Linked DNA regions of Homo sapiens. The protein of the gene in region 3 purifies or fractionates together with the protein of the main gene of each other region. This does not show direct contact. Each region holds a gene or a part of one and is shown on either strand. Other genes may lie near its edges.

Region 1 (3,500 bases), on a different chromosome or scaffold from region 3:
TAATGACAGGAGCTCTTGGGGCGTCGTCATGAGGATTACCTTGACTTAATTCAGGAGACGTGCTTAGAACAGTGCCAAGCACAGGGTGAGACCACAGTGCCAGCTGTGGGGATCATTGGTATGTTCTCCTGGGTGAGGACAAGTAGAGTGAGGGCTGCAGGCCCACTCAGCCGGGACAGCACTTCCTGGGACATAATCTTGGGGGCCTCAGCTGGCCTGGATCCTTGTGCCAGCTCTCAGTGGGGACTAGCCTCTCCCCACATGCAGGGCCACTTGCTGTGGCCGCTCCCTTGGCCCAGACTTTCTCTTCAGTCACAACAGGTGCAGCCTCTGGAAGGTCTTTTTCTGCCAGGGATGTGCCTGCCAGCTTGGGCTGGGAGAGCTGACTTCTGCTCCGGGTGGAGTGAGATGTTTTTATTGGAACCAGCCTTTAGCTGGCTTGGGGATTTCATTTCTCCTGGCATAGAGGTAGGAGGTGATTAATGCTGAATGGGCACTTGCTTGGTGCCAGGTCCAGTGCTGAGTGCTTCATGCATGGCACTCTATGTAATCACAGCTCAGCTGTGCAGAGCTGCCATCCTTATTCTTGCTTTACAGACAACCATCTGAGGCTCAGAGAGGCTGACCAACTTGCCTGAGGTTGCACAGCAGGGAGTGGTGGTCTGAGGATTTGACCTTGGGTCTGTTCCATTGCAAGACAAATGCCCTTTGAACTACATTGCAGAAAGACAGTTCTAGGTCCCAAAACCTGGTGGCTTAAGGGGCACTGTGGGGACTCTGAAAGGTGTCTGGCTACCAGGACGTGTACTGCAGCCCTGGTTGAGCCCTCCAGTCCCAGCTCCCTGCTTCAGCTGGCTGGCAAAGCTTTGCATGGTCCAGCCTGTGCCGCCCTTTCATCCTCATGCTCTGCACTCTCTCTGTTCCAGGCTTGTTGGCCTCCGCACCTGCTGCTGAAATACAAGCTTGTTTCTGCGTGGGGCCTTTGCATGGGTCGTCTGGCTTCTTTCTGTTTCCATGTTTCAGATGAAATATCCTCTCTACAAAGAGCCCTTTCATGACCTGCCAACCTAGAGCTGCCCCTCCCCACTTTCCCCCTATTTCTCCATTTCCAGGTTGCACAGCACCTTTCCATCCAGTGCTCACTCTCTGTCTCTCCACTGGAATGTGTTCCACCTGAGCAAGGGCTGCCTTGCTTTTGCTCACCCTGTCTCTCCAGTGCCCAGGACAATGCCAGGCACATACCAGCCATCAGGAGGGTTACCAACTACTTCCTACAGGAGCAGGGAGGGGAGGCAGGGAGGGGCTCGGCTAAGGGGAGAGCTCCAGGCAGGTTGTGAGGTGTGGGTGCTCTCCTTGCTAAGGGCAGGGCCAGCTGAGCTGGACGGGGTGGCTCCTAGGGTGGGTGCGAAGGTTGGTTGAGGTGCAGGGACTTTCACAGAATCATGCTTGGTCTCTGGGACTTTAAGGGCCATCTTTTCCAGCCTAGCACCTGCATTTGGGGACACGAAGATGAAGAAAGTGGAGGCCAGTTGTCAAGGAAGGACCTTTCCTCCCAGTGCCTAGTCACTACCCTGATATCCCACCAAGAGGCAGCCCAGCCTTGGCTTCCATACCTCTCTAGTGACAGGGGGTTCACTACCCTCTAGGCAGCCATGCCACACTTTGACAGCTCTGACTTGAAAGTGTACAGCCTCTCCCTGCCCCAGGGTGACCCACATAATAAACTGCCTCCGTCTCCTGACAGGGCCCCTTCCTGTCGTCTGAGCAGGGCCTGGGCGATGACGGCAGCTCCTCTTTCCTGCTTGCTTCCCTCAGTTCAAGTGCTGTGGCGGGGAGGACTACCGAGATTGGAGCAAGAATCAGTACCACGACTGCAGTGCCCCTGGACCCCTGGCCTGTGGGGTGCCCTACACCTGCTGCATCAGGAACACGGTAGACACTGCTCCTGTGGGGACTGGGGGGCTGTCGGGGACCCCAGGTGGTATAAATGTTCTCTTTTCTCTCTTCCCAACTTGAAGATGGGTGGTGTGGGTGGATGGCAGGGAAGTAGGAGTTGGTGGCAGAGCGGAGGCTTTCCTGATTCTCAAGGGCTCCTGAAAGTGGAGCTTCTGGGGGTCGGGGGTAGGGAGACCATGTCTTTCTTAGTGGTGTTGGTTAAAATCTATTGAGCACCTACCTTGTGCAGGCCTGCTCTGGGCACTTTGGTGGTATTTACTCATTTAGTATTCACGACAACCCTGTGAGGTATGTACTGTTATTTTACCCACTTTACAGATGAGGAAATTGAGGCACTCAAAGGCTGGGTGTCTTGCCCAAGGTTGGCAGGGCTGGGATGAAGTGCAGGCAGCTGTTGCCTGAGCTACACTCTGGAGAACTGTGCAGGCCAGGTGAGGGCAGGAGGGAGAGGTGCCCAGGCCAGGGGAGCTTAGCGGGGGTAGCTGGCTCTGCAGCATTAGTGGAGGCAGGCAGGACCTGCACCTTGGGCATCTCCATTGGTCTTTGGCCTTGAGGTCCTGGTGATCATCAGCAGCAGAGTGCTTGGAAGGGGGTCTGGTGACGTAAATGCCATCCTCTTCCTCTCCCCAGCACGATCCTCTCGGGTCTGTCACCTTGGTCATTTGGGATGATGTCTTGTGTTGTCAGCGCTTAAGTGAAAGGCTTCATCAGTCCTTGTGTTTGACAAATGTGTCCAGAAACTGTTTCAGGATTGGAACGAGGTGGAGAGCTTTGCAATTACTCATGGCCCAGATAGTCATGGAAAGTTTTTCTCCTGACATTGCCACCATTCTGTGCCCACTGCTGGATTCTGTAAACTGAGCAGCTGCGGGTGGGGGCCTCGCCCATGAGTCAGAGAGCCAGTGCCAAGTGCACTAGCTCTAAAAAAGGCCGGGCCAGGAGGGAAGCTTTGTTTGGAAGTGTTAGCTGCCATTTTAGGGTAGTTCTCTGGGAAGTGGGGTGCTGAGGAGTAGCAGAGTTTCCAGAGAGGCCTGCGTGGGGTGATCCTGAACCTCATCACCCAGGGCAGCAGCATCTGAATACCTAAGCTGAGATGTGGAAGCCAAACTTGTATTCATTCATTCATTCATTCATTCAACAAATATTGGCTGAGAACCTACTCTATGCCAGACACATTTCCAGGTTCTGGGGGTGTAGCAAACAAAGTCTCTGCCCGCAAGGAGGTGACATCCTAGTGGAGAAAACTGACAAACAAAATAAGTAAAAGATAGAGGATCATAAATGCTGAGTAGAAAAAGAAAGTAGGGCATGGAGGATTGCAGTTTGGGATACTGAGAAAGGCGGGATCTGGGTGAAGCTCTGAAGAAAGTGAGGAAGGTGTCTGGGGGAGGGGCATTCCTGGCAGCAAGAACAGCTGTGCAAAGGCCCCAGGTGGGAATCACCCCAGGGCGTTTGAGAAATGCACAGAGTGGCTGGAGCAGAGGGAGCACAGCGGAGGATGGTAGGAGGTGGAGTCAGGGAGGTCATGGGTACCCCGAAGGCCA
Region 2 (3,500 bases), on a different chromosome or scaffold from region 3:
GCTGTATTAATGGGAACACGGAGGCAGGCTAAAGTTGACATGTCTTTCCAAGTTCATTTGTTTCTCAAATCATTTCTTTTTGTTTTGCTTTCTTAAGATAAGTTAGATGCTTATCACACTGAACATTATGTAATTGCGTGCACAGATTAGATTCTTAAGAAATTCTTTTTCAATCAGTGTGTTGTATAAATAGCTGTCTACTTAGCTTTGTTACCTGGGGGGGAATAGCTTTATGTTACCTGTGACTTTGAACAAGTTTGTTAGCATTTCTGAATCTCCTGCATCTTTAAAAATGGACATGTTAAATGAGATATGTGCTACACCTACTGCACTCAGCACTTTGTTACCTGCTTCCTAAACGCTAGAGATTCCTTCACTGCTAGACCTCTTGAGAGACTAGTCTTATGATCACTGTTTTCACTTCCTCAACTTACTGGCGGTGTACTCCAATATATTTATTTGTCCTTCCTCCTAAAACTGTGCATGTAATCAAATCATAGCTATTAATGTCCCCCAATTGTGAAATATCCCATGTCCTGTCCTTTTCTTTTCTTTTTTGAGACGGAGTCCAGCTCTGTCACCCAGGCTGGAGTGCAGTGGCGCGATCTCGGCTCACTGCAACCTCCGCCTCCTGGGTTCAAGCAATTCTCTGCTTCGGCCTCCCGAGTAGCTGGGATTACAGGCACCTGCCATCACCCCTGGCTAATTTTTTGTATTTTTAGTAGAGACGGGGTTTCATCATCTTGGCCAGGCCAGTCTAGAATTCCTGACCTTGTGATCCACCCGCCTCAGCCTCCCAAAGTGCTGGGATTACAGGCGTGAGCCGGTGCGCTTGTTTAAGAAACAGTGGAAGGCCAAAGTAATGAGTAGAGAAAATGAGACAGCCAAGATCATGCCACTGCACTTCAACCTGGGCGACATGGCATGACTCCGTCTCAAAAAAAAAAAAAAAATGCCGGGCGCGGTGGCTCACACCTGTAATCCCAGCACTTTGGGAGGCCGAGGCAGGCGGATCACCTGAGGTTGGGAGTTCGACACCCCATCTCTACTAAAAATACAAAATTAGCTGGGTGTGGTGGCCTGTAACCCCAGCTGCTCCAGAGGCTGAGGCAGGAGAATCGCTTGAATCCAGGAGGCGGAGGTTGCGGTGAGCTGAGATCGTGCCATTGCACTCCAGTCTGACCAACAAGAGTGAAACTCTGTCTCAAAAAAAAAAAAAGATTGATGGTGTTTAAGGGGGTGGTGGTGAGTGGCAGGCAATGCAGAAGTTACTAGATCATGGTAAGGACTTAGGATGTTTGAAGGGGTTTAAGTTGTGAAGTGACTTGATCTAACTTGAGTGCAATGGTGTGATTGAGGTTCACTGCAACCTCCACCTCCGGGTTCAAGCGATTCTTCTGCCTCAGCCTCCTGAGTAGCTGGGACTACAGGTGCCTGCCACCACACCTGGCTAATTTTTTGTATTTTTAGTAGAGACGAGGTTTCACCGTGCTAGGCTAGCCAGGATGGTCTCGATCTCCTGACCTGGTGATCTGCCCACCTCGGCCTCCCAAAGTGCTGGGATTACAGATGTATTCCACCATGCCCGGCCCTGTTTTAGCTTTTGATGTAAGGTTTCCTCTAGAGTAGCTTGATGGTTGAGGAACCATCTTATTACCAAGGACTCCCTTTTTATATTTCTTCTTTTGGAGACAGGGTTTCACTCTGTTGTCTGGGCTGGAGTGCAGAGGTGCGACCTGTGCTCACTGCAACCTTCGCCTCCTGGGTTCAAGTGATTTTCCTGCCTCAGCCTCCTGAGTAGATGGGATTACAGGTGCTTGCCACCACGCCGGGCTAAATGTTTTTTGGGTAGTTTTAGCCTAGTGTACCTTAAATATGCTCCAAACACTTAATATTAGCCTACAGTTGGGCAAAATTATTGAACACAGACTATTTTACAATAAAGTGTTCATTATCTCATGTAATTTATTGAATACTATACTGAAAGTGAAAAACAGAATAGTTGTATGAGTACTCAAAATATGATTTCCACAGAATGCATGTTGCTTTTGCACCATCATAAAGTTGAAAAATTTTAAATTGAACCATCATAAGTTGGGGACTGTCTTGTGCTTAGAATAATTGGTTACATATTAACTGATACATTTGCTTTCTTTCTTAATGCCTGCCTGTTGTACTCCAGGTACTCCACACTAGATTTGGGGGAGTCTTACAGAAAATACTATGTAATCCCTATCTTTGAGAACTTAAGCCTAATGTAAGAGACAGAGAGTATTGCTCTCTGATTATAGGACAATGTAACATGTGACAGGATGCTCAGTGTAGTGGGACCGCAGAGAGGATGAGATGAGAGGTGGTGGTAAAGGAAACTTCAGAGGGTGAGTTGGAGGCGGTTTAGCGATTAGAGGGCAGGTTGTAGAATCTGATAGTCTTTGTTTTGAATTCTAGTTCTGCTGTTGGAGAATTATTTGATTTGGGACAAGTTAAATCACTTCCCTAAACTCATCTGTAAAATGAGGATAATACTTATCTAAGGTTGTAAAGATTAAATGTAATGTAAAAAGTTTAGCAGCACAGTGCCTAGAGGTACATAATAGGTGCTCATTAAATCAGAACTGTTGGTATTAATTCTATTACTGCTGTAGCTGTGATTCTTTGAAGGCTTGAGTAGGAGTTAGCTACATAAAAAAAGGGCAGAGGAGAAATAGCTTTCTATAGACAGGGAAGAGTATATGGGACACTATGGTGGCCAAAGAATATTTGGAAAATAACAATAGTATCTGTCTTGATTCTGTTGAGATGAAAATAATACATGTAAAACACATAAGCACTAAAAAAAATCAGCTGTTATTATTCTACTTTGAGAAATATTGCATTGTGCTATACTGTTTCATATGGCTTGGGTAATAAACTTTAATCTGGCATTTATTTTTTAATCATTTTGCTATCTTTTTTTTTTTTTTTTTTTTTTTTTTGAGACGGAGTCTTGCTCTGTTGCCCAGGCTGGAGTACAGTGGTGTGATCTCAGCTCACTGCAAGCTCCGCCTCCTGGGTTCATGCCATTCTCCTGCCTCAGCCTCCCGAGTAGCTGGGACTACAGGCGCCTGCCCCCATGCCCAGCTAATTTTTTTTTTTTTTGTATTTTTCGTAGAGATGGGGTTTCACTGTATTAGCCAGGATGGTCTTGATCTCCTGACTTCATGATCTGCCCACCTCAGCCTCCCAAAGTGCTGGGATTACAGGCATGAGCCACCGCACCCGGCTTCATTTTGCTGTCTTTTATGCTTTAAACTTTTGCTATATGCTCTTTAAAAGAGTATCTACTTTAAATTCCCCATCATCTGGCCAGAAAAAAAAAGTCTCTGTTCATCTGGCCAGAAAAAAAAAAATTCCCATTATTCCTTGTAAAATTCCTCTCTTACTGAAACATCTTGGTTCCTTTTGTGTCTTTCTTTTTCTTCCCTGATTTCCTCTACTTTGAGGCTGTCCCTCAAAGTTTA
Region 3 (3,500 bases):
AGCAGAGATGGTTCTGAAGCTGATTGCCATGGACCCCTACGAGTATTTCCAGCAGGGTTGGAATATCTTCGACAGCATCATCGTCACCCTCAGCCTGGTAGAGCTAGGCCTGGCCAACGTACAGGGACTGTCTGTGCTACGCTCCTTCCGTCTGGTACACAAAAGCCCCAGGGCCAGGGGCTGGGATGGGGGTGGGGTGAGGAGACTAAGGAGGGTGGGCACAGGGATGGGAGGAGAAACCCCAGGAAGCTAGAGGGCTGAAAACGAGGCCTCCTCTGCCTTGTGCACACCTGTTACCTCTCAGAACCTTTCTTACCTGTAAAACAGAGAAAAGGAGAGCCCTGTCTTCTTTCATAGGGCTGCTGGGGGGACCCAAGTGACAGAGGCCAACACTGGGTTTGATTCCTTAATGACCTTGAGCAGCAGTGGAGCAGGAACTCCAGCCCCATACTGCAGACCTGAAAGCCGGGGCTCTGGAAGTTCATTAGGAGTAGGATTGGGACCTCTGAATTTCTGTCTTTTCACCACCCCATAAGGAGCACTATTATTCTTTTTAAAACTTTATCAGCTGGACGCGGTGGCTCACGCCTGTAATCCCAACACTTTGGGAGGCCAAGGCGCGTGGATCACCTGAGGTCAGGAGTTCAAGACCAGCCTGGCCAACATGGTGAAACTCCGTCTCTACGAAAAACACAAAAATTAGCTGGGCTTGGTGGCGCACGCCTGTAATCCCAGCTACTTGGGAGGCTGAGGCAGGAGAATCACTTGAACCCGGAAGGCTGAGGTTGCAGTGAGCCGAGATCGCACCACTGCACTCCAGCCTGGGTAACAGATTGAGACTCTGTCTCAAAAAAAACAACAACAACAAACTTTATCAAGGGATCTTTTCATGCATGCACAAAAGTATAGAGAAAGTATAATGAACCTCCACGTACCTATCACCCAGCTTCAACAACTATCAACATTCTACAATTCCTGTTGCATCTGTCCCCCAATTTTTATTGTGAAAGCAAATCCCAACATATAATTTCACTTGTAAATACTTTAGTCTGTATTTTTTTTTTTAGACAGGGTTTCTCTGTCACCCAGGCTGGAGTGCAGTGGTACGATCACTGCTCACTGCAGCCTTGACCTCCCCAGACTCAGGTGATTCTCCCACCTCAGCCTCCTGCATAGGTGGGACCACCATGCCTAGCTAATTTTTGTAATTTTTGTAGGTCAGGGTTTCGCCATGTTGCCCAGGCTGGTCTCCAACTCCTAGGCTCAAGTGATGCACCTTCTTCGGCCTCCCAAAGTGCTGGGATTACAGGTGTGAGCCAACTGCTCCCAGCCATAGTCTGTATCTTTAACAGATAATGACGAATGACATTTTTTCTCTTTTCTTTTCTTTTTCTTTTTCTTTTTTTTTTTTTTTTTAGTGGAGTTTTGTTCTGTAGCCCAGGCTGGAGTGCAGTGGTGCAATCTCTGCTCACTACAAGCTCCACCTCCCTGGTTGAAGCGATTCTCCTTCCTAAGCCTCCTGAGTAACTGAGATTACAGGCACTCGCCACCATGCCCGACTAATTTTTTGTATTTTTAGTAGAGACAGGATTTTACCATGTCAGCCAAGCTGGTTTCCAGCTCCTGAGCTTAAGTGATCCACCCGCCTCGGCTTCCCAAAGTGCTGGGATTACAGGCGTGAGCCACCGCGCCTGGCCTGGACTTGTTTTCTTTTTAACACATGAAGGGCCTGAGGTGGTAGAATGAGTGTTCCCATTTAGCAGAAGGGCACACTGAGGACTCAGATGGTGTGGGGGGCTGGAGATTCAAGCTACTCGACACTGTTCTTTCTCCTAAGGCTGGGGCTGCCTTGGGTGGTGGTCCCTGGGCCTCATTCACCCTTGCCCTCCCTGCTTGGCAGCTGCGGGTCTTCAAGCTGGCCAAGTCGTGGCCAACGCTGAACATGCTCATCAAGATCATTGGCAATTCAGTGGGGGCGCTGGGTAACCTGACGCTGGTGCTGGCTATCATCGTGTTCATCTTCGCCGTGGTGGGCATGCAGCTGTTTGGCAAGAGCTACAAGGAGTGCGTGTGCAAGATTGCCTTGGACTGCAACCTGCCGCGCTGGCACATGCATGATTTCTTCCACTCCTTCCTCATCGTCTTCCGCATCCTGTGCGGGGAGTGGATCGAGACCATGTGGGACTGCATGGAGGTGGCCGGCCAAGCCATGTGCCTCACCGTCTTCCTCATGGTCATGGTCATCGGCAATCTTGTGGTGAGTGAGGCTGGCTGGGTGGCCCCTGCCCTCACCCGGGAAGCGTACAAGATGTACCTGATATTTGACTGTTTTCTATCTCCCCAACACATCCTCTCCAAAATGGCAATTTTATGTGGTTTAACCCCGTAGTTCTCAAATTTTAACCTGTGTAAGAATCACTTAGGAGTTACTTAAAACATAGATCCCCGGCCCCACCCCCAGAGTGTCTGATTCAGCAGCTCTGGGCCTAGGCCTGGGGACCTGCATTTCTGACAAGCTCCGAGGTGATGCTGATCAGTGGATGCTGATGGTGGTTCTGGGACCATGCTATGAGTAGCGCTGTTGGAACCTAGTGTTTTGAGTAAAGCAACATGATAATGAGTCAGACAGACCCACATTCCAGTCCCAGCTCCTTTGCCATCATCTGTGTGACCTTGAGCTAACTGCTGCTCTCTAGTCAAGCTGGGTTCTCTAACCCTCACATAGAAGAAAAACAACAGGGAGTTCATGAGGTCACTGCAAAGATGATGCCATAGTGTGTACAAAGGCACAGTTTTGTGGGGGAACCTGGGCCTCCTGGCCTTCTCCCACCCTCTTGACCTCCTCTGCTCCAGGGCCTATGGTCCAGGCGCCGAAAAAGAGAATCAGGCTGGATGTGGTGGCTCATGCCCATAGTCCCAGCACTTTAGGAGGCCAAGGCCAGGAGTTCAAGACCAGCCTGGGCAACATAGCAAGACACTCTTATCTCTACAAAAAATGGAAAAATGAAAAAAATTAGCTAGGCATGGTGGCACACACCAAACCCAGCTATTTGGGAGGCTGAGGCAGGAAGATGGTTTGAGCCGTGGACTTCAAAGCTGTAGTGAGCTGTGATCCTGCCACTGCACTCCAGCATGGGGGGGCAGAGCAAGACCCCATCTCTAGAAAACAAAAAAGAAACAGGTGCAGATATTGGGAAAATGCAGAGATGGCATAAACTGCATCTCTTCTGCCGCTTACTGTGGTTCAGGGCTTGGCATGAGGGGCTGGTGCAGAGGAAGGGGCCAGGAGGTGAGAGCCAGGGTATAGGGCCATGGTCCAGCTGGCCAGCATTTCTGCGGCTAGGGCCTCTGGAGGTGACCCTGACTTCTCCCCTTCTTGGGGTGGCAGTGGAGGTCACTCCTGCCAGAGCCCTGCAGTGCTGTGCCCAGCTGCCCCCTGCAGTGGCTGGTGCTGCCCTGGGCAACAGGGACTGGGAAGACGCCTGTCCCCATGTTCCCCA
Region 4 (3,500 bases), on a different chromosome or scaffold from region 3:
GTGATTAAGTGAGCTTAACAGTGCCTGTTACATAATAAGCACTCAATAAATGGGAGGAATTTTCCTATTACCTGAATTGGGTCTAGGTTCACACTGTGGCTCGTCATTAAGGAGATATGTGGCCTTGGGCAAGTTACTAAAGCTTTCTAAGCTATAGTTTTCCTCATCTATAAATCAGGTCCTAATAATACTTATCTTACAGTGTTTTTGTGAGGTTCAGATGAGATACCAGCTAGAAAAGTACCTGGAATGCAGTGAGTGTTCAATTAGTGATAGCTATTAATTATAATCTGTGCTAAAGATTTCTGGACTTGTATTCCTATGTACTGCTTAGGAGCTGTGGTCCTTAGACACATGGCCCTGTCTGGCTGAGCTTCAAATAAAGAACCCCGCTAAGAAAGCTCACCATGCTGAAGGCAGTTATGGTGAGGGTAAATACACTTGGGTACCAAGAGCACTCTGGAAATATGCAGTGGGTGATTAAATATGCCAGTGTCCTATTTCTTAATTTACATTATGACACCTGTCATCAGAAACACTTTTTAAATTTACATTACACAAAATGAATCTAGTCCTTCTTCACCACGCCAAAGTTAGGATTTGCTATCTATCCCCAAGGATGATATTCCAGGCTTGTTCCCAATATGTCTTATTTTTTTGCTTATCTTTTCTCATGTAATGTAGAAAGTAGCCTCCTCTTCTCAGAGGGTAAATACAAGGGTCAATCCCTGATTTACTCTAGGTTCTTGGTGGAGAACATACATACTGGATAGAGAAGAAACCCCTTCTCACCTTCTTGCCCTCAATAACCATGAAGATGCATCCTACCACCGTCAGGGCAATCATTAGATAGCTGATCTTCACTCGCATCTTGTTCTTTGCAGCATCAAGCATCTCCAACCTAGTAATACAATGAGATCATGAGAGAAAGTTATTAACTTTTCCCTTTCTGAAGTTGCTCAGGATAAAAGGCTGTGTATAAATTCAAAATGTAGTAGTGTCTATAAATATAAATAGGGAGACCTAGAGATCTCTTTAAAAAGGGCCTAGAGATCTCATAGGACTTTGGGGAGGATGAGGCATTTTTCGTAACTCATTTATGTATAAAATACAGGATAGCACACAATTAAGTACAAAAGAAGAAAACAAAAAGAGAAGTCAAGAACAAAGCCAAAAAAAAAAAATGGGCAAGGCATATTAATCTACACTTGCTATGGTGGACCCCAATTTTGGCTCTCAGGTTTCCAAGCAGCCTATAAATGCTAGAAGTGAAACAGTCATTTCTCCCTGAGGTTCTTAAGAAGACATTATGTGATGTAGTCATCGTCTGAAAACATCTCGACAACAGATACTACAATAAGCTTCATATGTTTCAACACAAAGCACAATTCAGAATGATCAAACATTGGAGAAAGTTAACCAATGTGCTCCATATACCCAGCTTTTTGCTCTCTGTCTTGAACCCAGAATAGATTTGAGAATATCTAAAATAGTAGGAAGATCCTTTAAGCAATGCTCCTCAATATTTATCTTTTTAAACAAATGTTTTGCTAAAATTGAGTGACAGTGAACTTGATATTGTGGTCTTTGGCAAGTGCCAAAGTGCAGCTCTTCTAACCTATCTACTGAATACAGACCCATGTGCCTTAAAAAAAAGTTGATGGTTGGTTCATCATTCTTGTGTGAAACCTAAGAGGCTTAATATAGAAGAGTCTAAAGGCCAATCTACCTTGGTGATTTTGCAAGTAGGCAGTGAGTCATGGTTCTATTTTTAATTTACTTTATTTAAAGAGATGGGGTCTCACCATGTTGCTGACTCAAAATCTTAGACTGAAGCGATCCTCCTGCCTCAGCCTCCTGAGCAGCCGGGGCTATAGGCATGCATTGCCACACCTGGTGGTCACGATTCTGTTACCTCGGTGTCTGGCAGAACCTCAAGGCAGGGGATGTGGAGCCCTTATGGGGCCCAGGATTAACTTATGGCCTTCTCAGTAGATGTGTAAATAGGAAGTGATTATCTCTAGATGATGGGATTGAAGTGCTTTCTTTCCCCTGAGATATTTAACATATATTACTTTTAAAATTGGGGAGGGGAGTACTTTAAAAATGCTTGGAAGGAGGCAAAGAGTCTGGGATGTTGCAGGTGGAAGGAGGAAGATGATGAAGCCATGTACAATGTGATGTAGGAGCTGGGACCTGTGAGGCAGCATGTGGACGGGGTTCTCCAGGCACTTAAGCTGGGCCTGCAGGCTGGCAGGAACCCAAGACAACTGCTAAGGACTGTCAAATTGGTCAGTTAGGAGCACCTGAGATTCCACTAACCACAAACTGACTTCCCATGTTGACGGTATTTTATGGGATTTGAAGTGCCATGATCCTCATGAAAAGTAATCCATTCCATAGGGAGTAATAGGAATGGGCAAGTTAAGCAGTGCCTGTTCAGAACTACCAGCACAAGGACAAATGGCTGCCCAGGCCCAGAAAAGACCCTTCCAGAGTGATTCGTGAGGTAGTATTTTGGGCCTGAGGGGATCTTGGAACCAACTATTAGGCAGACTGAGGAAGGTGTTCTATAGCAAAGCCTATACAGCATCTGTTAAGGCCATGGGTGTCTACCAGCTTATTTTCTGCTGGTATAGGAAGAATTAGGGCATAGGCAAGAACCTGATGTCACTGTTATTTCCAGTATTCTCTTATTTCCCAGAAGAATACATGACTTGAGCTAAGAAAAACCAGGGCTTTCCTGCTGAAATAATTCTAGTTAAAGTAATGTGCTATCAATTTGACTGGCAGAAGCAGAAAAGCTCTATTAAAGCTGTTGTAAACAGAAAGTAAATACTACATATTTCCCTGGGAAAGAAATCCTGAATGAGCTCAGATCTTTTTCAATCATGACTTGAAACCAGAGACCAGAAGATCCAGGAATAGTTTCTTGCTGACAGGGAACTTCCACGAGCTTTGTCTGAAGTCCCTGTCCCTGAATAGGATGATGCCTCACAGAGGAGATGACATCTATTTCTCAGAATCTCTTTTTAGCCAAGATGCCAGCCAGTCAGGGTCTTTAACATGAGGCTAGGGCACTGGTTCTCAACCAGGGGAGATTCCCACCCCGCTCGTGCCCCTTGGACATTTGGCAGTGTCTGGAGACATTTCTGGTTGTCAGCACTGCCGCAATGCTACGGGCATGTAGGGGGCAGAAGCCGGGGATGCTGCCAAACATCTTCCAACAAATAGGACACCCCCCTGCCACAAAGCATTATCAAGCCCCAAATATCAATAGTACTGAGTTGAGAAACTGGGTTGGAGGAACCTGCACTCATCATCTACAAACTCTGAAAAAGTTCCATGATCCCAGCCAAGATCCCTTCCCTTAGGTTTAAGGAAGTTGGTGACAGGAAGCACTCTTTCCTGAATTCCAGAATATTGCAATTAAATACTTTTACACCTAAGGTTGAGTACTTAAGTGGATTTGGGGGAATACAGTCATTGTCAATGGTACT
Region 5 (3,500 bases), on a different chromosome or scaffold from region 3:
AAAATGCAAAATCTTGGGCACACTCTAGACCTTCTGAATCAGAACCTGCATTTTAACAAGATCTCTAGGTGATTCCTGCACTGGTTATAGTTTGAAAAGCGTCGATTTAAAGATAGTTCCCGACCTTGGCTGCATATTTAGAATCACTCGGGGAGCTTTTAAAAATCCCAGATGCCAGGCCTGGCGCAGTGGCTCACGCCTGTAATCCCAGGACTTTGGGAGGCTGAGGGAGTTCCAGACCAGCCTGGCCAACGTGGTGAAACCCCATCCATACTAAAAATACAAAAATTAGCCGGGCATGGTGGTGGGTGCCTGTAATCCCAGCTACTCGGGAGGCTGAGGCAGGAGAATTGCTTGAACCTGGGAGGCAGAGGTGGCAGTGAGCTGAGATCGTGCCATTGCACTCCAGCCTAGGTGACAGAGTGAGACTCCATCTCAAAAATTAAAAAATAAAATAAATAAATAATAAAAAATCCCAGATGCCTGGCTGCATCCCAGACCAATTAAATGAGAATCTCCGAGTGGAGCACAGGCATCAGTTGCTTTAAAAGCTCTCCAGGTGATCCCACTATGTAGCCAACCCTAGCTCCACTGTGCGTTCCCTGGACCAGCAGCGTCTGCATCACCTGGTAGCTCGCTGGAAATGCGAATCTCAGGCGCAGACCACCTGATCGGAATCCACACTTTAACAAGGTCCCCAGGTGATCTGTATGCATATTGAAGTTTGAGAAGCACTTTCCTTGGGGACCACACTCCAGGAAATCAGCCCTTGGAGAAACTGAGGGATATGCCAAGATGCACCGAGGAGAGGTCCTTTCCCTCCCCTCTTGAGCTGCTTTTGTCCCATTTTTATGAGTCAAAACAGTCATCTATCCACTTCTCTGCAGGCATTTATTTTACCCCTCAGGTATAGGAGGAGCATTACAGACAGACCCTGGAGCTACAGAGACTTACTTAGCAGCTCTATGGCCCTGAGTAAATTAAACTCTCTGAGCCTCAGGTTCTTCATCTGTAAAAAAGGACACCATTACCCTCCTTCTTATATGTCAGAGAATTAAAACAGTTCATGTATGCAAAGGGCTCTTTGTGTACTAAGTACCAAGGAAGAGGTAGCTGCTTTTATATGCTGATGGAGGGGCATCTAGGGTAGTTGGAGGAGCTGCAGGCCTTTCCCCCAGTCATGGCAGTATCTGCCTTGTCTGTGAGGAGCTGGCTCCATGAGCCATGGGCTCAGTTGTGGCTGCTGCAGCCCTGAGACTGGAGATATTTCCCTGGTGTATCTGGTTAATGTCGTTGGGTTTTGCTAAGGATGACGGGCTTGTTTACACTGGCTCTCAGTCCACCACTGGCTCTCAGCTTACCATTATGTCCAGGCTACTGGAATTCAGGGGGCTTCCCCTTTACACTGGTGCTGGCCTGGAGAAGTTGCCTGCAGATTATACTCTTGTACACTAAACCTTCATTTTAGTGCCCCAGGGAGTTTGCTGCTTAGAGGCATCTTACAAAAATCCTTTGGTAAAGCACATCAATCCTCCTATGGCCCCTCTGCCTGGGTTTTCAGTGAAGGGCTTGCTTGAGGGAGTCCATCTGCCAGTTGATACTGATACTGTTTTCATGGCAGAGATACACTGAGCTTCCCACTCTTGTACACCACTGCTCATGGCAGCCTTGCATGGGGTTCTCAAGTCTAAGGAAGGGTGAACACATGATGGCATAAGCAGAGAATGGATGTGGGGTCAGATCAGAGGGCATCCAGTGTCATTGGAGAAGGTCTGTGTCAGCTTTTGAGAGATGGAGACCCTGCCTAACTTGGCAAAGAGCTTCCCAAAGGCCAAGCAAAGGTCTGTTTCATTTCCCCTAAGCTTCACTTAACAGATTTAGGATTTTGGAAGCCTGGTGCTACTGAAAAGGACATTTCTCAATTCCAGAGCATAAGATATTCTTCAGTGAGCTATTCAAGTCCACTTATCTTGAGATACTGATAGTGTGGCTCAGGGATAGCAGTTGAATTTCAACCTGAGCGTCAATGTCCATCCATTGGTCGCAGCTACCTGGAATGTTAAGTTGAGGATTCTGGATCATTAGGAATAAGTGCCATGCTTGATATTACTGTGCTGGCAATTGTGGTTTGTTATTGGTCATCTACCATGGGCAAAGATGTGTTCACTATGCCTGCTGTAGCCTCAACTTACAGGTCCTTCACCTGGCATGCTTCCTTATGGAGGGCACCACCAGGGAGATGCTGCCTAGATTTTTAGATGTTTTCTTGGTCAACCCCAATACAAAGAGTAAAACGTACCTTGCCCCGCATGTCGGCCTCCCTCATTTTGTTATAGTTTCTGGTCTAAGAGACTAATTTCTAATTTATTTATTATTTTTAATTTTTATGTTTTTATTTATTTGTGAGAGACTCATTTCTTTTCCAAGTAATGACTCAGATTACCTCCCTTCTCAGGTGGGACCCCTTCCCTGTACCTAAGGGTGTGACTTTGCATTTGAAGCCCATCAGAGTAACCATGCCTACTGCATTCATGTAACAGGAATTACTTTATATACTAGAACATAAAGGCCTGCAATGGAGTACTGGCCCCTCATTTATTTAGATGTGCCAGATGTCCCACTCTTTTATGTATGTATATTGCCTCATTTAATCCTCACTGGCAACCTTGTAAAGGAGCTACTAGTAACATTATTTTGTAGATCTAGAAACTGAGACACAGAGAGTTTATATAACTTGCCACTTGCTGGAGGATTCAAACCGAGGTTGGTTTGGATGCTTATACCTATGTTTTTCTCACTCAACCTTGACCACAAGGAACTGCTAGTTTGCCAGGCCAGATGGCCAAATCCACAATCAGTTAAACTGTTGTCAGGCAGGAATGTGTTTAGTAATAACCCTGTGATGATATCACAGGATTATTTGATCCTGTGTCTTGCTGGGGCAAAAAGCGGGGGTTGTACATTTTGTGTTTACAACTCTTGAAGAGAGACCTGTGTCGTCTTGCCGTGCCAACTGTACATTCAACCATCTGTGTTTCTTTTCCATTGGCCTTGCTGTTGCAGACATCCTTGTTCGGAGAGGGGACCTACCTCACCAGTGACTTGAGCCTGGCCCTCATATACAGCCCCCATGGCCATGGGTGGCAGCACAGCCTCCTCGGCCCCATCCTTAGCTGTGTGGCCGTGTGTGAGGTCATTGACCATCCGGACGTCAAGTGCCAAACCAAGAAGAAGGGTGAGTGAGCACTTGGTCCAGACCTGGGCTACAGGCCTCTGTTGGGTGTACAGGCTCTTGCTGGCCCAGCTGTTGGGTAGAGCACCCATTGCATGCCCAAGGGTTGGGCTGGATCCAGGGCAGTGCCGGACAGGGTCCTGCCCAAGGAGCGAGCAGTCTTCTTAGAGATTGAACACTCAATGGAGACCATTCACTACAAGGGGGTAGGTAGGGGGTGCCAGGTAAGGAGGCTGACGAGGCCCACAGAGGCAGCTCAGAGGAAGTA
Region 6 (3,500 bases), on a different chromosome or scaffold from region 3:
TGAGCCACTGCGCCAAGCTTTTTTTGTTGTTGTTGTTTTTGAGATGGAGTCTCAGTCTGTTGCCCAGGCTGGAGTGTAGTGGCATGATCTTGGCTCACTGCAACCTCTGCCTCCCAGGTTCAAGCGATTCTTCTGCCTCAGCCTCCCAAGTAGCTGGGACTACAGGCACATGCCACCATGCCTGGCTAATTTTTGTATTTTTAGTAGACACGAGGTTTCACCATATTAGCCAGGCTGGTCTTGATCTCCTGACCTCGTGATCCGCCCGCCTTGGCCTCCCAAAGTGCTGGGATTACAGGCGTGAGCCACCACGCCCGGCCAAGCTGTATGAATTCTAACGTCAGTGTTTCCATCTGTAAAATAGGAAATTATGTATCCTGTTCAACGAGATAATCCATGTTGAAGCTCAACACAATAATGAAAGCCAAAAAGGTGAATTCTAAGGTTTTGAGTTGAGATATTAGGAAAAATAGTGCTGACATGGGCTGAAATAGATGAATCAGAAAGGACATAGTAGTGTTTCATGTGTGTATAATGTGATAGTACAATACTGACAGGTTTAGGTCTGGAGCTTGAGGCCAGTGTCAGGACTAGAAAGAGAGAGAGATTTGTTAACCACCCATCATCTGGATCTGACTAAATCAGCATGATTATTTGTATCATTTGGGAGGGAAGGTACAACATCTGTAAGCATTACTTTTCTTCAAAGGGTACCTTAAATGGGATATTTTTTAAAGCAGCTGATTATATAAACCCTAAAAGGCAGGAATTTAAAAATAGTAAAGTAGGACTCCTTCTGGTTTCACATGACATTTTACATTTTTTTTTTTTTTTTTTTTGAGACGGAGTCTCACTCTGTCACCCAGGCTGGAGTGCAGTGGTGCAATCTCAGCTCACTGCAAGCTCCGCCTCCCGGGTTTACGCCATTCTCCTGCCTCAGCCTCCCGAGTAGCTGGGACTACAGGCACCCGCCACCACACCCGGTTAATTTTTTGTATTTTTAGTAGAGACGGGGTTTCACCATGTTAGCCAGGATGGTCTCGATCTCCTGACCTCGTGATCCACCCGCCTCGGCCTTCCAAAGTGCTGGGATGACAGGCGTGAGCCACCACGCCGGGCTGACATTTTAAATTTTTGAATGATCAGTTCTTTGGGTAAAGGGGCCCTGGATCCAAATCCAAATAGATTTTGATTGGCTATAGTATGGACTGATTTTTTTTTTTTTTTTTTTTTTTTGAGAGACAGGGTCCCACTCTGTCTCCCAGGCTGGAGTGCAGCGGCATGATCATAATTCTCTGCAGCCTCATCCTTCTGGGCTCAAGAGATCCTCTTGACTCAGCCTCCCAAACAGCTGGGATTGGTGCATGCTCCCACACTTTGCTAATTGTTTTTTATTGTTTTTTGTAGAGATGGGGTCTCAATATATTGCCTAGGCTGGTCTTAAGCTCCTGGCCTCAAGCGATCCTTCTGCCTTGGCCTCCCAAAGTGCTGGGATTATAGGCATGAGCCACCATGCCTGACCTCTTTTTTTTTGAATAAGTGCAACGAAAGCTCTGGAATTAAGTCACATTGAACTGATTTGGGTCATATACCAATTCTTCGGTCAATTACTGTAGTCTGCCTGGGTCATGTATCTACCTCTTTGGAAAGGAGGCAGTCTCACCCAAAATGTACACAAGGGGGGTATCCCATAGGAAAAATTAGGGTGCTGTTACCAAAAGAAGGGAAGATTGATGTTGGGCAGGCACAAATAACATATCCATTTCAACAGGAAAAATATCTTTTCTGTTACCTATTTCTACAAATCCATCGGTTTATTTGATAGTGTAACTAAAATACATATAAATTTCCAGGCCGGGTTTTGTGGCTCATGCCTGTAATCCCAGCACTTTGGGAGGCCGAGGCGGGAGGATCACTTGAGCCCAGGAGTTTGAGACCAGCCTGGGCAACATGGCAAAACTCTGTCTCTACAAAAAAATACAAAAATTAGCTGGACATGTTTGGCCCATACCTGTAGTCTCAGCTACTCGGGACGCTAAGGCAGGAGGATTGCATGGGCCCGGGAGGCAGAGGTGGAGGGTGCAGTGAGCCGAGATCGTGCCACTGCATTCCATCCTAGGTGACAGAGTGAGACTCTGCCTTATAAAAAAAGAAAATTTTTTTTTTTTTGAGAAGGAGTTTCACTCTTGTTGCCCTGGCTGGAGTGCAATGGCACAATCTCAGCTCACTGAAACCTCTGCCTCTCAGGTTCAAACGATTCATTCTCCTGTCTTAGCCTCCTGAGTAGCTGAGATTACAGGCATGAGCCACCACACCTGGCTAATTTTGTGTTTTTAGTAGAGATGGGGTTTCACCATGTTAGTCAGTCTGGTCTCAAACTCCTGATCTCAGGTGATCCACCTGCCTTGGCCTCCCAAAGTGGTGGATTACAGGTGTGAGCCACTGCGCCCGGCCAAGAAATAAATTTTTAAGGAATGAATTTCCTGTTTGACAAAAGCAGGAGCTTCTAAAAAATTAATAAGAAATTAACAGGCTGGGCACGGTGGCTAACGCCTGTAATCCCAGCACTTGGGAGGCCGAGGTGGGTGGATCACCTGAGGTCAGGAGTTCGGGACTAGCCTGACCGACATGGAGAAACCCTGTCTCTACTAAAAAAATACAAAATTAGCCGGACGTGGTGGTGCATGACTGTAATCCCAGCTACTTGGGAGGTTGAGGCAGGAGAATCACTTGAACCCGGGGGGCAGAGGTTGCGGTGAGCCGAGATCGCGCCATTGCACTCCAGCCTGGGCAACGAGCAAAACTCCGTCTCAAAAAAAAAGGAAGAAGAAAAGAAAGAAATTAACAATGATATGATGCTTTTTACATGCCTGGTATTGTTCTAAGCACTTTAGGTGTGTTAATGCACTAATTTGATCTCTAAAATGGCAAACTGTTATCAACCCCATTTTATAAATGAGAAAATTGAGGCATGGAGAGATTAAGTCATTTGCCCAAGGTGACCTCGCTAATAATATTTTGTATGAAGAGCTAGCAATCTTTAGGTATGGCTGTTCCACCAGTATCATCTTGTTTAGATATCTGTCAGGAATAATGTTAGAAACTTTCTGCCATGTTTTAGTCTTTCCTGAGGCTTTCACCCAAAGATTGACAGTTCGTATAGGCTTAGCTTTTTGAGTTCAGGGTAGAGCCCAAGCTATTAGTACTTATCTAGAAACCCACCCCTACTACAGCTATGAGAATCAGGGTTGCTGGGCATGGTGGCTCAAGCCTGTAATCCCAGCACTTTGGCAGGCTGAGGTGGGCAGATCACTTGAGCTTAGGAGTTTGAGACCAGCCTGGATAACATGGTGAAACCCCACCTCTACAAAAAAGAAATACAAAAATTAGGTGGGTATGGTGGCGTGTGCCTGTAGTCCCAGCTACCTGGGAGACTGAGGTGGGAGGGTGGCTTGAGCCCAGGAGGTGGAGGCTGCAGTGAGCCAAGATTGCACCACTGC
Region 7 (3,500 bases), on a different chromosome or scaffold from region 3:
TGACCCCAAAATTAAGTCTGGTCCTGCCCACACCCTATCTGGAACCCCCCACGCTACTCTGAAGGTGACTTCTCTGGGTGGCCACCGGAGTGTCCTATGTGAGTTGCTGCTTATTTCAAGAGGGGCCACCCCCCAGGCCTGAGATGAGCAGTCCTGAGTTACAGACGCTTCATCTGTGAACATTCTGCACACACAGACATCTTCCCCCTCCTCTCAGCACCTTCCCCACCCCTAGGACCCTGTGTTTCTTCCTTCACACTCTTTGCTTCAGCAAGAGGCTGCACCGGAAGAACTCAGGTCAGAACCCAGCGTTTTCACAGAGGAAGAGTTCCTTGAGAAGGTAGGTAGTTCACCCCAGCTTGAACCTGTACTCTGCTGGTTCAGGAACTTAGACCAGCACTTATCTGCGTGTTCCAGTTTCCTGACAACTTGGTTCATCTGGGCAGCTGCTGTTTGGGAATGGTGTTAAGACCACGCCTCCCAGCCGCTGTATCTGGCACCTCGTGACTTTATTCTTTTTTGCATACTTGCCTTTCCTTGTCCTTTTAAAATCCTGAGTTCCTGTGCATTAAGAAAGCAGCCTAGGCCGGGTGCATGGCTCATGCTTGTAATCCCAGCACTTTTGGAGGCTGAGGTGGATGGATTGGTTGAACCTAGGAGTTTGAGACCAGCCTGAATAACATAGTGAAACTCCATCTCTACAAAAAATACAAAAATTAGCCAGGCGTGGTGGTGCGCGCCTGTATTCCCAGATAGCCGGGAGGCTGAGGTGGAAGGATCGCTTGAGTAGAGGTTGCAGAGAGCTGAGATTGCACCACTGCACTCCAGCCTGGGCAACAGGGCGAGATTGTAGGGTATTAGGTCAGTACATAAAAATCAATTAAATATTAAAAAAAGAAAGAAAGAAAGCAGCCTAGGGACATGGAGACGGGGTGGGAAGGCTCCCTAGGCAAGGAACTGCCGCTCTCTGGGTGTCAGTGTACCCTACTGAGGAATGGGCATAGACCATTCAGAACTAAGATGTGGTGGTGCCTTGGGATCGGTTAGGCTGTTGAAATGTATTATTATGATTATTATTATTATTATTTTTGAGACGGAGTTTCGCTGTGTTGTCCAGGCTGGAGTGCAGTGGCGTGATCTCGGCTCACTCCAAGCTCTACCTCCCGGGTTCACGCCATTCTCCTGCCTCAGCCTCCCGAGTAGCTGGAACTACAGGCATATGCCTGACTAATTTTTTTGTATTTTTAGTGGAGACAGGGTTTCCCCGTGTTAGCCAGGATGGTCTCGATCTCCTGACCTTGTGATCCGCCCGCCTCGGCCTCTCAAAGTGCTAGGATTACAGGTGTGAGCCACCACGCCTGGCCTGAAATGTATTATTGATGTGACTTTGTGGGTGTATTTGTAGTAAGAGTGGCAGATCAGATGTAGCTTCACAGCCTGGGGTTGGTGACCAGAATGTACTTTCTTGGAAAAATGCATGTGGCTTGTGTGGCTTTGATGCCCCACGTGGCACCAGGGAAGCTTCTCTGGGTAGCAGCAGCTCCTGCTCCCCGACTTGCTGCCTATTCCGATTGCTTGCAAGTCCCCGTGCCCTCTGAGGACCTGCATGTACCCGGTCTGGGGCCCCTCCAGAGATCTGGGATGACTGTCCCCTCCCGTCACTTCTCAGGTCTCCCCCACCCTTTACTGCAGCCAGAGGAGGATTTGTGGGAATGATTCATTCAGAGCTGCTTGAGATCTTGGCCAGCCCCCAGAAATTGCAGGGAAGGACCTCAGAGGCAGTGCCCACAGGCCCTAGGGAACGTCTGGGGCTGATGGCCCAGGGAGAAACTTCTTATCCTATGTGCTCAGATGGCGGGCAGCCAGCCCGTCTGCCGAGTGACTTTGTATCAGTAAGACTTTTGACTGGGGCTTCTGCAGCCAGAAAGCAGGCAGGCAGCCCAGAAAGCAGGCAGTGTGATAGGGAGCTAGGGGGCACTGGCCTGTATTAGAATCCAGGTGCTCCACATCTTTCTGGGGCTGTTGGCTGTTTCTCTATGCTTTGGTTTTCTCATCTGTTGAATGCAGGTATAAGTAGGACCTATCTTCCAGGGGTGCTGGATGGAAGGGAATGGTGGTAAAGCACTTATCTTGGTACCAGGCAAAAGCTGAGGCCCTGGGGTTAAACAGGCTCTTTGGAATTTTGAACATGTTCGTTTGTGAACCTTAGTTCCTCCGTCTGTCAAAAGGCAACAATTATAAATACAGCCAATATCAACAGGGCTTACTGGGTGCCAGACACTGTTCTAGGCACTGTATGTGGTTTAACTCATTTAATTCCCCCAACAGCCATATGATGTGAACAGGCTGAGGCTCAGAGAGGTGAAGTAATTTGCACAAGGTCACCCAGCTAGGAAGTGGGAGACATAGGATTTGGATCCAGAATCTTTCTTTTTTTTTTGTTTTGGGTTTTTTTGTTTGTTTGTTTTGAGACAGGGTCTTGCTCTGTTGCCTAGGCTGGAGTGCTGTGGCACAATCATAGCTCACTATAACCTTGAACTTCTGGGCTCAAGCGATCATCCCACCTTGGCCTCTCAAGTGCTGGGGTTACAGGCGTGAGCCACCACACCCAGCCCAGACTCTACACTCTGAATTCTCATTCTTACTCCTCCTTGATATCCCATCTTAAGGCCTAGCACATAGAAAACACACAGAAAACATCAGGTGTTGTTATAACTATTCTGAATAAATATTGATCCGCTCTCCATCCCTCTGTCCACACTCCTTCCCTGATGATCAGAACATGCAGGGCTCTTGGCCTGTAAAGTCCAGATTCCCACCCACTCCTCCCTACTCGCTCTGTTCCTCCCACTCCCACACTCTCATGCACAGCAGAGCTTGGAAGCAGCCAAGTCCCAACTCTTCCTCCAAATTGCTGTGTGACATTGGGCAAGGAGCTTCCCCTCTCTGAGCCCCAGTTTCCGTACATGTTAAATGGGTGAGTTCACCCTGCTGCATGTTTTTTGTTGAGCTCCCATGCTACGTGTGTGTTTTTAAAATTGAGTCAACATTCAAACATTTCTAGAGAAAAATTCTGATTTCTCATTTCTCTTGGAAACCCAGGAGCTTAGGCCAAACTGGAGTGGCCTGAAGCTGCCCCTTAGGTGGCCTGGACTCTCCCAGTCACTGTGGTTCCCCCTACTCCCCATTGTCACGTAAGTGCGGCTTTTCAGGGGATCTGAGGATGCCTTAGGCCTGCCTCGTGCCACCTGAATAAGCAGTTCCATTGCTTTAAAAACAATTTTTTTTTTTTGAGACGAAGTCTCGCTCTTGTCGCCCAGGCTGGAGTGCAATGGCATGATCTTGGTTCCTTGCAACCTCCGTCTCCTGGGTTCAAGCTATTCTTCTGCCTCAGCCTCCCAAGTAGCTGGGATTACAGTCGCATGCCACCACGCCCAGCTAATTTTTGTATTTTTAGTAGAGACAGGGTTTCACCATATTGGCCAGGCTGGTCTCGAACT

The links.
Region 1: the proteins of SCN4A (region 3) and TSPAN15 purify together in Homo sapiens (affinity purification with mass spectrometry; one large-scale study listed by BioGRID and IntAct). This does not show direct contact.
Region 2: the proteins of SCN4A (region 3) and SOAT1 purify together in Homo sapiens (affinity purification with mass spectrometry; one large-scale study listed by BioGRID and IntAct). This does not show direct contact.
Region 4: the proteins of SCN4A (region 3) and FAM162A purify together in Homo sapiens (affinity purification with mass spectrometry; one large-scale study listed by BioGRID and IntAct). This does not show direct contact.
Region 5: the proteins of SCN4A (region 3) and PARP16 purify together in Homo sapiens (affinity purification with mass spectrometry; one large-scale study listed by BioGRID and IntAct). This does not show direct contact.
Region 6: the proteins of SCN4A (region 3) and PIGU purify together in Homo sapiens (affinity purification with mass spectrometry; one large-scale study listed by BioGRID and IntAct). This does not show direct contact.
Region 7: the proteins of SCN4A (region 3) and TPST2 purify together in Homo sapiens (affinity purification with mass spectrometry; one large-scale study listed by BioGRID and IntAct). This does not show direct contact.

The regions. Positions count from the first base shown.
Region 1 is NC_000010.11:69,496,465-69,499,964, forward strand, and holds part of TSPAN15 (tetraspanin-15), read left to right. Parts: intron 1-1,744; coding exon of another isoform or gene 1,745-1,815; coding exon 1,816-1,932; intron 1,933-3,500. UniProt on the Homo sapiens protein: Part of TspanC8 subgroup, composed of 6 members that interact with the transmembrane metalloprotease ADAM10.
Region 2 is NC_000001.11:179,296,797-179,300,296, forward strand, and holds part of SOAT1 (sterol O-acyltransferase 1), read left to right. Parts: intron 1-3,500.
Region 3 is NC_000017.11:63,955,919-63,959,418, reverse strand, and holds part of SCN4A (sodium channel protein type 4 subunit alpha), read left to right. Parts: coding exon 1-154; intron 155-1,900; coding exon 1,901-2,257; intron 2,258-3,500. UniProt on the Homo sapiens protein: Pore-forming subunit of Nav1.4, a voltage-gated sodium (Nav) channel that directly mediates the depolarizing phase of action potentials in excitable membranes.
Region 4 is NC_000003.12:122,404,682-122,408,181, reverse strand, and holds part of FAM162A (protein FAM162A), read right to left. Parts: intron 902-3,500; coding exon 793-901; intron 1-792. UniProt on the Homo sapiens protein: Proposed to be involved in regulation of apoptosis; the exact mechanism may differ between cell types/tissues.
Region 5 is NC_000015.10:65,262,884-65,266,383, reverse strand, and holds part of PARP16 (protein mono-ADP-ribosyltransferase PARP16), read left to right. Parts: intron 1-3,063; coding exon 3,064-3,235; intron 3,236-3,500. UniProt on the Homo sapiens protein: Intracellular mono-ADP-ribosyltransferase that plays a role in different processes, such as protein translation and unfolded protein response (UPR), through the mono-ADP-ribosylation of proteins involved in those processes.
Region 6 is NC_000020.11:34,670,593-34,674,092, reverse strand, and holds part of PIGU (GPI-anchor transamidase component PIGU), read left to right. Parts: intron 1-3,500. UniProt on the Homo sapiens protein: Component of the glycosylphosphatidylinositol-anchor (GPI-anchor) transamidase (GPI-T) complex that catalyzes the formation of the linkage between a proprotein and a GPI-anchor and participates in GPI anchored protein biosynthesis.
Region 7 is NC_000022.11:26,583,633-26,587,132, reverse strand, and holds part of TPST2 (protein-tyrosine sulfotransferase 2), read left to right. Parts: intron 1-3,500. UniProt on the Homo sapiens protein: Catalyzes the O-sulfation of tyrosine residues within acidic motifs of polypeptides, using 3'-phosphoadenylyl sulfate (PAPS) as cosubstrate.